Linked DNA regions of Homo sapiens. The protein of the gene in region 1 purifies or fractionates together with the protein of each later gene. This does not show direct contact. Each region holds a gene or a part of one and is shown on either strand. Other genes may lie near its edges. The genes, in order: PTH2 and AMD1.

The links.
Region 2: the proteins of PTH2 (region 1) and AMD1 purify together in Homo sapiens (affinity purification with mass spectrometry; 2 studies listed by BioGRID and IntAct, with this or other methods). This does not show direct contact.

What each region holds. Positions count from the first base shown.
Region 1 is NC_000019.10:49,421,912-49,428,472, forward strand, and holds PTH2 (tuberoinfundibular peptide of 39 residues preproprotein), read right to left. Parts: upstream 1,531-6,561; 5' UTR 1,429-1,530; coding exon 1,301-1,428; intron 732-1,300; coding exon 557-731; 3' UTR 508-556; downstream 1-507. Other genes in the region: GFY (Golgi-associated olfactory signaling regulator precursor), read left to right, coding at 4,520-5,702, 6,035-6,208. UniProt on the Homo sapiens protein: Plays a role as a potent and selective agonist of PTH2R resulting in adenyl cyclase activation and intracellular calcium levels elevation. Induces protein kinase C beta activation, recruitment of beta-arrestin and PTH2R internalization.
Region 2 is NC_000006.12:110,891,528-110,896,243, forward strand, and holds the end of AMD1 (S-adenosylmethionine decarboxylase proenzyme), read left to right. Parts: intron 1-633; coding exon 634-676; intron 677-771; coding exon 772-916; intron 917-1,207; coding exon 1,208-1,300; intron 1,301-1,382; coding exon 1,383-1,538; intron 1,539-1,948; coding exon 1,949-2,089; 3' UTR 2,090-4,186; downstream 4,187-4,716.

The DNA.
Region 1 (6,561 bases):
AAGAAAGTGATGGAGAAGGGAAGGAAGAGTTTCAGAGGCAGAAGGAGAATAGAGAGAGGAGGCAGAGATTCCCAGAAGACCAGAAAGCCAAAAGGGTGAAAGGGGAGATAACCACAAGGACCCAGGGAGACGGGGACACATACCCAGAGAGGAAAGAGACCCAGAGAAAGGGACAGAGACGGAGGAGGACAGAGACCTTGGAGATTACAGAGAACCAGAGAGAAGGGGACAGAGATGGGGGTAGGGAGGGACAGGGGCCCAGAATGAAAGGAGGGGGCGGGGGGGTGGGGGCGATAGGGAAGCAGAGATCCAGAAATAGGAAAGAAGCCAGCTTCCTGGACAAAGACAGGCAGAGAGAAACGGAATTGAGGAAAGAAAATAGAGTGGGGACTGAGGAGAGAGATGCCAGAGTGGCCGACACAGAGTCCTGTCTCTTTTCTACCCCCCATTTCAAGCCCCGCGCCCCCAACCCAACGCACACGCAGGTCGCGCAGGAACTAGGCGCAGTCCGGAGCGCAGGGCATGGTCTTTATTAAGATGGGGACGGGCAGCGCGCTCAGGGCGCATCCAACACCAGCAGCTTGTGCATGTACGAGTTCAGCCAGTGGCGGCGCTCGAGGGCGGCCAGCAACCGCGCGCGCTCCCGGAAGGCCGCGTCGTCCGCCAGCGCCAGGCTCCTCCGCGGCCTGGGGGTGGCGGGATCCGCCCAGGCCCGTCCTGGGGGGCGGAGGCTGTGGAGAGACGCGGTGACCGCGCGTCCAGACTCGCTCTTGCCGCCGCCTGTCCTCCCCGCGGTCTAACTCGAAGCCCCGTTACTGCCCAGTCCGTGGAGTGGCTCGGTCCGGCTCCCCCTGTCTCTCTCGTTCTCTGTGTGGGTCTCTGTCTCTCTGCTCACCAGGTTCGAAACTCCCCAGGTACTGAGACCGAGTCTGATGCACTTGTCCGCCCACAGCGCTCAGCGCATGGCCAGGCGCACACCAAGAACCCAATAAACGTTGCTCAAAGAATGAATCCGTTTCTGCAACGACTCCTTTCGAGCCTCTCCACGCCTTTCTCGGGATCTATCTTTCTGTGTCTCTTTCCCTTGCTGATTTTCTGTCCATTTCCCGCACCACCACTACCACCAAACCCTCCTCCCGCCTTCCCCCACCCCTAGTCTCTGTCTTCTCGCTGGGTCTCGGTCGCCCTCTCTTTGGGCTTCTGTTCCGCTTTCTGGATCTTCCGTCCCCTTTCTCTTTGGTTCTCTTCCCACTTCTCCAAGTTCCCACCCCTCCCTGGGAGTTCTGGGACTGGCACCTACCTGAGGACCCCGACCGGGGGCAGGGCGACTCCCGAGGCAGTGCGGACGCCCCAGGGCACCACCAGCAGCAGCAGCAGCAGCAGCAGCAGCCGAACCCGAGGGCTCCTGGACACCTGGCGGGTCTCCATCACCTGTGGAGAACCAGAAAGGGGCTCAGTAGGGCTGCATCCCGGCCCAGAACCCCGGGCCCCACCATGCATCCACCCCCAGCTTCCCGCACAGTCCCCTACCGTGCAGTGGGCTGGGGCAGCGATGGTGGCAGCCCCCTTATATCGCCTCCGCAGCCCCCGCACCGGGCAGTGACGCAGGCCGGGGGGCCGGGGACGCGGGGTCACCCCCTCCCCAGGCTCATTAGGAGCCGCCAGCGGTAATGAGGAGCCGGGGGTGGGGGACCTGCCGCTGCCTTGGCCGCCACCAACTAATTGGGACCAGAAGCTGGACCTGAGACGAGGGAGGGGGAGAGACAGACAGACAGAGAGGTGGACACAGGGGGTGTGTCAGAGGGCTAAAAATAGAGACTGGCGGAAGGACCGTCAGAGGAACAGAGACACAAAGAGAAGGACAAAGACAGAGTGGCCGAGGAAGAAATAGAGAGAAAGAATGGGAACGACAGAAAAAGAAAGGAAAAGGAAGAAAACAAGAAAAGAGAGCGAAGGAGATGGAAACGAACAGTCAGATGGAGATGGAGGAGGGAAAGAAAAGGCTCTCAGAAAGACAGACGGAAATGGAAGGACGTCCTGGTCTGGAAGGAGCTGCCCAGAGATAAATACAGCAGCGAGAGGCCCAGAAAGATCGAGGGTGAGGTAGGGAGGGGGGAAAGGCAAGAAATGGCAAAGGGTACGTGTGGCAGGGGTGTGAGGACAGGAAAAGTGACAGACCACATCAGAAAAACCTCAGAGAGTGAGAAGAGGGGAAAACAGACAGGGCTCCTGAGCTGCCCTAAGGATGTGTCTAAGCCCTTATCTGGGAGGAGTTTGGGGGTGCTGTGAAGATTAAAGCCCAGTCCTCCTCACACTGACTCTTTTTGTGTGTGTGTGTTTGTCTGTTTGAGATGGAGTCTTGCTCTTGTTGCCCAGGCTGGAGTGCAATGGCACTATCTCGGCTCACTGCAACCTCCACCTCCCAGGTTCAAGCCATTGTCCTGCCTCAGCCTCCCGAGTAGCTGGGATTACAGGTGCCCACCATCACGCCCAGCTAATTTTTGTATTTTTAGTAGAGATAGGGTTTCGCCAAACTGTTGGCCAGGCTGGTCTTGAACTCCTGACCTTGTGATCTGCCCTCCTTGGCCTCCCAGAGTGTTGGGATTACAGGCGTGAGCCAGCACACCCAGTCCACACTGACTCTTAAGAGGGGCCTCAGCCGGGTGCTGTGGCTCATGCCTGTAATCCCAGCACTTTGGAAGGCCGTGGTGGGTGGATCACTTGAGGTCAGGAGTTCGAGACCAGACTGGCCAACATGGCGAAACTCCTTCTCTACAAAAATACATAAATTAGGTGTGGTGTAATCCCAGCTACTTGGGAGGCTGAGGCAGGAAAATCGCTTGAACCTGGGAGAGGGAGGTTGCAGTGAGCTGAGATCGCACCACTGCACTCCAGCCTGGGCAACAGAGTGAGACTCTGTCTCAAAAAAAAAAAAAAATTTAAAAAGAGGGGCCTTTATACACAGTGAGGAGAAGATGGGCAAAACTTGGAAGTCCTACAGAGCAGTAGAAACTTGGGATGTGGGAACTTGGGCTCCTAGTTTCCTAGGAAGGTGGTGGCAGAAGCTTGGACTCCTGAGTCTAAGAGTGGATGGGACAGGGACCCAGATTCCTATGTTCTGGGGAAGGAGGAGGCTGGGGACTTGGATTCCTGAATCTGAGGAAGGAAGGAGCTAGAGGACTGGAGTTCTGAGTCTGGGGGGAGGGAGCTGGGGGATACAACTTAGGGGACTTGAAATAGGAAGGTACCAGGGAACTAGACCCCTGGGTTTTCAGGTAGGAGAGGGTAGAGGGCCAGGACCACTGGTTTCAAAAAAATAATTTGGGCCACATCTCCACTAGATCAATCCAGTTTCTAACTCCCTTCCCCACCCCAGAGAAAATGTCCTTTACTTCTGTCCCTTTAAGAGTCTAAGTCTGTCGCTAGGCTCCCAGGATCCCCTGGGAGGGGGTGAGGTGCGTCACCTGTGTGCCCCTGAGACCCTACCTCCCACCGCCCTGCCCAGATCTGTTCTGCAACATTCACCGTTCTCTGCATCCAGCTCTGCTTATCTGCTGTTACCTTGGACACCAGAGCAGGTAAGAGACCCCAGGACCTCAAGTAAGCCTGTCCCATCGATGTGTCGGCCGCCTCCACCTCCACCTGAACACAGACCTATGCTTCTCTGCCCAGACTGGCCCCGGAGATGCCGAAATCCTAGCTCCATCTTCAATAACAGACTTGAGAGTCCTGCCCCAAAGCTCTCTTCTTCAAGTCCCTACCCCTCTACTCTGCAGAGCCCAGACCCCAGACCCTATTTCTGGAGGACTCAGAGCTCCCAATTCCTTTCTAACTCAGGAACCAAGAGCTCAAGGCCTCTTATCTCCTTTCACCCCTGCAATCCAGCCCCCAAACCTTGCTCCCTCAAAATTCTAGGCACCTGAACTTCCAGCCTTCTCCTCTCTAAAGAACCAGGAGCCAGGAACCTCAGCCCCCTCACCCTGCAAGACGCAGGAGTCTGAACCCCCAGCAACCTTCTTAACCCAGAGCCCAAATGTCTCCCTCCTCCCTCAAATCCATGAGTCCAGCCCTCAGCCGTTAGGAGCCTCCTGTAGTGTAAACAACTGTTGAGTCAAGGTGTCCCGGGGGACCTCGGAGAGGAAGGAGATCCCACGTCCCCTCGAAGCCCTGACACTCCCTAAAGTCGAAGTCGAGGAGATCTGAGGCCTGGAGAAGTGTCGTTCTTTCCCAATTTTTCTAGGACCCCTCGCTGAAACAGATAAGGAAATTAACTACGACTCCCAAGTAGCCCCGCGCCTCAGTCTCTCTTGGCTACCTGGGCCATCGCCCCACAAGCCTCCAAGGGACTTGCGATTGGGTTCTCTTCCCATCCCTGGCGCCAAGCTGGGCCCCGGACAGACGTGGTCCACCTGTGTTCCAGTGGGCGTGGCCTCCGGGAGTGGGCGGGGCTCCTGGGAGCCTTCGGCCTTAACCCCTTCCTTCCCGCTCTCCCCCGCAGCTATAGGTATCTGCCAGAGCTATGAAATCATTCAGCCGGATCCTCTTCCTCGTCTTCCTCCTCGCCGGCCTGAGGTCCAAGGCCGCTCCCTCAGCCCCTCTGCCTTTGGGCTGTGGCTTTCCGGACATGGCCCACCCCTCTGAGACTTCCCCTCTGAAGGGTGCTTCTGAAAATTCCAAACGAGATCGCCTTAACCCAGAATTTCCTGGGACTCCTTACCCTGAGCCTTCCAAGCTACCTCATACGGTTTCCCTGGAAACCTTCCCACTTGACTTCACTGAGCCCCTCAACCCTGACCTCCGAGAAACCCCGCACCCAGAGTCTCCTGAGACCCCCAAAGCTGACTCACTCACAACCTCAATATCAGAATCCCTGGACATGCCCAAAACTAACCTCTCCAAAATGGCACACCCAGAGTCTTCTGAGACCCCCACACCTGGCCCAACTGAAATGCCACACCCAGGATCCCCTGAGACCCCCAAACCTAACTTCTCCAAAACTTCACGCCCAGAATTTCCTGAGACCCCAAACACTGACCTTATGCAAACTACACCCCAAGAATCCCCAGAGATTCTGCAGCTTAATGCCACTGAAGTCTCACAGGCAGAACTCCCCGAGACCTCAAACACTAACCCTACCAAGACCCCTGACCCCAAATCCCCAGAAAAGCATGACCTCAACTCCACTGAGACCCCAAACTCTGAATTTCTCCAAGCTCTCCATCCTGACCCTTCTAAAACCCCCCACCCAGAATCCCATGTGACCCACAATCCCAGCCCCACCGAAATTTCCCAAACAGAATTCCCCACAACCTACTACCAAAATGCAACAGATGTACCCAGGACCTCCGACCCTCAAATCTCCACTAGTCTCTACCCAGAAACACCTGTGCCCTTCAAGGATGACGCCACTGCTCTAAATGAGCTGTCCCTGAATCCCAAACCAGGAACACCTGCAGCCATCCAGCCCGACTCCCCAAAATTGCCCACTTCAGATTCTCCAGGAATGGTTGAGCTGAAGGCCCCCCAGAACTCTGGCCCTAAGGAGTCCAACGTCCCTCCTCCCTCAGCCCGGATTGCAGGTCCCCCTGCTCTTCCAGGGCGCCCCAGTCAGTTGGCCCCTGCCACTCTGCGGGCACCCCAGAGGCACAGCCGAGGTGAGGGAGTCAACACCATCATCGTGGTGGAGCGAGTGAAGGAGACCGGTGAGGGGCAGGAGCCGGACTCCTGAGTCTGAGGGAGGGGCTGGGGGCCTGGACTCCTGGGTCCGAGGGAGGAGGGGCTGGGGGCCTGGACTCCTGGGTGCGAGGGAGGAGGGGCTGGGGGCCTGGACTCCTGGGTCCGAGGGAGGAGGGGCTGGGGGCCTGGACTCCTGGGTGCGAGGGAGGACCGGCTGGGGTCTGGACTCCTGGGTCTGAGGGAGAAGGGTTTGGGAACAGGAATTCCTGGATCTGAGGGAGGAGGGGCTAGGAGCTTGGACCCCTGGGTCTGAGAGAGGAGGGGGTTAGGAGCTTAGATTGCTGGTATCCCCCTTCAGGCGTGACTCTGGTGGGGCGACCACGTGGCGCAGCAGGCGGGGCCCTCTGCCTGTTCTTCGCGGGGACCGCGCTGCTGATCGGCATCTTTGTGCTGCTGTGGTGTCTTTACCGCCGGGCAGCTAGACAGCGGCCCTTCGCACATCACCGGCTTCCGGACGACGGAGATGAACCGGGTGAGCGCCCTGCCCCTTGAATGCCTGCACTTTTCCATAACCTGGTCTCTCCCGGCACTACAGGGCGCCAGCCAAAAAAGCACAGGTCCCCCACCCAAGGTCAATGAAAGCCCTGGCTCTTCCATGGCAACGTCCAGCCCCCTAAATGTCTGCAATTTCACCCAAGAGTCCAGTGCCGCTCCCAATGCGGTTGGAAACGGCTTCAGGCCCAGAGCCGGCCGTCCCCGCCAGCCCCGCCCCTGCCCCTCCAGGTACGCGGCCCGGAGCCCTGTACTTCCCGCCCTCCACTGCAGGCCCCGCCGCTGCTGATCGGACGCCACGCCTCCTGGTTTCTGCAGCGGCCCCCACCCTTT
Region 2 (4,716 bases), on another chromosome or scaffold:
AACATCCTTACTTCCTAGATAAGGCTGAAAACCTAAGATAATTTAGTAACTTTGCACAAAGTCGCTCATAAGCATGAAAATTGAACTTAGCACATCTACTAATATGAAACCAAACCAGGCTAATCAGAGTGTTGGGTATTTACTGCAAATACCCGCCAAGTCAGTCGATCCTGCTTATCTGGGAATTTACCTACTGTTTCCATTCCTTTCACTGATGACATTTCTTTTTTCTTGAGATGGCGTCTCGCTTTGTCACCCAGGCTGGAGTGGAGTGGCGTGATCTTGGCTCACTGCAACCTCCGCCTCCCGGGTTCAAGCAGTTCTCCTGCCTCAGCCTCCCAAGTAGCTGGGATTATAGGCATGTGCCAACACGCCCAGCTACTTTTTGTATTTTTAGTAGCGATGGGGTTTCATCATGTTGGCCAGGCTCGAACTCTTGACCTCAAGCCCACCTCTGCCTCCCTGCCAAAAGGGGTGGGATTATAGACATGAGCTACTATGCCCAGTCCACTGATGGATGACATTTCTAATAAGTGGCAAATAGTATCATTCTGCTTATTGTGGAAGGGTAGTAACAAACCATCCTATTAAATGGATGTGTTATATTTATTTTGCGTTCTCTTCCCTCAACAGATGGAGCAGCATATTGTATGGGACGTATGAATTCTGACTGTTGGTATGTTTAATGCAATTTTGTGGATTTTTGTTGTCCTATGTAAGATTTAAACTGCCAATTGTCATTTTTAGGAACTATTTTTAATTTTTATTTAGGTACTTATATACTCTGGATTTCCCAGAGAGTCGGGTAATCAGTCAGCCAGATCAAACCTTGGAAATTCTGATGAGTGAGCTTGACCCAGCAGTTATGGACCAGTTCTACATGAAAGATGGTGTTACTGCAAAGGATGTCACTCGTGTAAGCATTTTTAGTAATAATTGTTGCTGGACTCTTCTGCGTGGGGACTAAATTTTATTTTTCATTCTGTAACTTTTAAGTTCAGGGTAACAAGTGCTAGTTTGTTACATAGGTAAACTTGTGTCATGGGGGTTTGTCGTACACAGTATTTCGTCACCCAGGTGTTAAGCCTAGTACCCATTAGTTATTTTTCCTGGTCCTCTCCCTTCTCCCACCCTGGGACTAAATTTTGGACTCAATTGAAGTTTATTTGTCAAACCCTTGTTAAACTCGGTCTTTTTCCCCCCCCAGGAGAGTGGAATTCGTGACCTGATACCAGGTTCTGTCATTGATGCCACAATGTTCAATCCTTGTGGGTATTCGATGAATGGAATGAAATCGGATGTGAGTAGTTATATATTGCTTCAATAATTATTTAAATGTGAATAGTCTTTCCATTCTTAACACTGTGAACTTTTTCTCTCAGGGAACTTATTGGACTATTCACATCACTCCAGAACCAGAATTTTCTTATGTTAGCTTTGAAACAAACTTAAGTCAGACCTCCTATGATGACCTGATCAGGAAAGTTGTAGAAGTCTTCAAGCCAGGAAAATTTGTGACCACCTTGTTTGTTAATCAGGTAATTTTATATTTTATTATTAATCAGGTTATTTGATTTTTAAAATCTTAAAGGAAATGAGACAGTGAGGCCTAAGATGTATTCTGAGATAGCACATATACCAGCCACTCAGATATCCAGAAGTAATATTGTTTGAGGTTACTGGTAGCTGAGAAGCTTTGTTTCATTAGACCTGTGTCAGTCCTTGTTTTCTGTCTAGCCAAACTGATGGGTTCCTCCTGTCTTGCTATTGACAGGCCTCTGGTGGGAGGAACCATAAGATGCCCTGGCCCCTCCAGCACATAAGAAGGCAGCTAAAATAACTCAGATGTCTTAGTTTCATTAAGATAAAAGTCTGTCACTTAACTGTTTTGGTTGAAAATACTTCTCTGGATTGCAAACACTAACGGTTATTTAATTTTTTCCCCCAGAGTTCTAAATGTCGCACAGTGCTTGCTTCGCCCCAGAAGATTGAAGGTTTTAAGCGTCTTGATTGCCAGAGTGCTATGTTCAATGATTACAATTTTGTTTTTACCAGTTTTGCTAAGAAGCAGCAACAACAGCAGAGTTGATTAAGAAAAATGAAGAAAAAACGCAAAAAGAGAACACATGTAGAAGGTGGTGGATGCTTTCTAGATGTCGATGCTGGGGGCAGTGCTTTCCATAACCACCACTGTGTAGTTGCAGAAAGCCCTAGATGTAATGATAGTGTAATCATTTTGAATTGTATGCATTATTATATCAAGGAGTTAGATATCTTGCATGAATGCTCTCTTCTGTGTTTAGGTATTCTCTGCCACTCTTGCTGTGAAATTGAAGTGCATGTAGAAAAAACCTTTTACTATATGAAACTTTACAACACTTGTGAAAGCAACTCAATTTGGTTTATGCACAGTGTAATATTTCTCCAAGTATCATCCAAAATTCCCCACAGACAAGGCTTTCGTCCTCATTAGGTGTTGGCCTCAGCCTAACCCTCTAGGACTGTTCTATTAAATTGCTGCCAGAATTTTACATCCAGTTACCTCCACTTTCTAGAACATATTCTTTACTAATGTTATTGAAACCAATTTCTACTTCATACTGATGTTTTTGGAAACAGCAATTAAAGTTTTTCTTCCATGAGTTGAGTCCTTAAGAAAATGATTCCAGTTACTCATTTTGCATATTTGCTATTTTAACATTATTGGACCCTGCATTTATAGTCCTTTGATTTCTTCCCTCTCCCTGGTGTCTCCCCCAAGACCCCAAATAAAGCAATACACTGTTAACACTGTGGGTTTATATACTAATTCTATACCCCAGATGGGGAATGGGGGAGATGGTCCCTGGGCTTAATATTCTTTAAAGGGCATGGGAATTTAGCCTCTCTTTTATTGTAATGTGCTCTTTTGGAAAATAGTTGGTTAGCAGGGAAGACCCAGAGTTGTAGATTGAGATTAGGGTGTACTGGCTGAACTGTGGAAAACATACAATTCTGTGTTCCTCAGTAAATGAGATTAGCGTCTAATGAGTAGCACCCCTTTACTAACTTAGTAGTAGTATAAAATCATTTTTATTTAGTTAATTACCAGAGAGATTTAGCATAATTTTGTTCTGGATTCAGTAAATCAAGTCAGCTTGGATCATTCACCTTAACTTTTCCTTTAGCAGCCATTTCCACTAGTTTCCATTAAGTAGTGTTCTATAAACTTTGATCCAAAGCAGAATCAATGTCTTTTCCATCTCGTGACTTAAAGTTCTGTGACTGTGATGCATGTGAGTGTTCCGACTTCATCTGTTCCTCTTAACTACGGTGTTTCCCTTACCATGGCATTCATAGGATGAAATGAATGACTGCCCAGAATGAGAATTTGTCCAGATTATTCAGATAAACATCATAAAGCAGAATACATTATAAATAAGTAGAATATGAATAAATAGAATAATAAAATTCCAAAATACTCAATGGGAAATGACTAGTAATATAGGCTTTCAAGAGTTGGTACCTTTTAGCTATATTTGCAGATTCTCTGGGATTTTAAGGAACTGAGAAAACAGCAAAGTTGACTAAATTTTATATTTCTTGTCCTCTAAATATTTTGATAATTTCTGGATTGATGCAGTGATGTTTTTGTTCCTTCCGTATTTATAAATGAAACACCTTTTTTTAGTGTTTCTAAACCTAAAATCTACTTGGTTTGAAATCAAGTGGTTGGAACACTGTTTGACTTTTATTTGAAGCATGTTGTTGATTGAAAATTTCATTGAGGAAGTTTTCAATCAGTGTGATCAGTTTGATTCTGTAATGAGCACAGCACCTAATATTTTGAGGAGCTCTGTTTTGAGGACCAATGCTTAAGGTGGACTTTGTTCGTAAACAATATCCCAATAGATTTGTTGACTTGAGGTCTGGTTTGGTTTTGTTTTTGTTTTGTTTTGTTTTGTTTTGTTTCCAATAGAATTAAGAATTCTAATGTTGAAAAACTGCACAAATTTTTATGGGACAAAGCCTAGAAAAGAGAAATGTAGTTTGAATCATAATCTAAATCATCGTATGATAGAAGAGGGAAAGTTTTGGTGCCATAATTTCTCCTTTCACTGGTGTTGGACTTAAATCAGTTGAAATGTATTTCTGTACCACAATTTACGCTTCAATAAAAGTTTAATTGTCTAGTGACATTCAGAAACTTTTCTGTTGCCCTGTTTTTTAAGTAGCCTACTTGACCAAATACTACATGTCTGAAGTTTAAAATCAATACAACAATGTGTATTTATGAGTTTGGAGTTAGACAGAAGTTTAAAAGTGTTAGGTCCCAACCTTTATTATAGACTAGACTCTTAAAACATTGGTTGAGGATGATCAAACTCAAATAAGTTTCCTTATTTCATTCATGGTTATTTCTATTAAGTAGAAAAAAATTTATAACCTTGATCATTTTCTTTATTTTTTTTAATTTAGGATCTTGTTCTGTTGTCTAGGCTGGAGTGCCGTGGCTGTTAACAGGTGCGATCATAGCATACTGCTTCCTTGAACTCCTAGGCTCAAGCAGTCTTGCTGCAGCTTCCCAAGTAGCTGGGAATGCAGGGTTCTGCCATCACACTTGGCTTTGTCATTTTCTTTATTTGGCAACATTTTAGTTCCACAGTCAAATATGTAATAAGCTGAAAAATCTTATGAAAATGTATATTCTGATCTTTCTCAGAATATGCTTCCGTT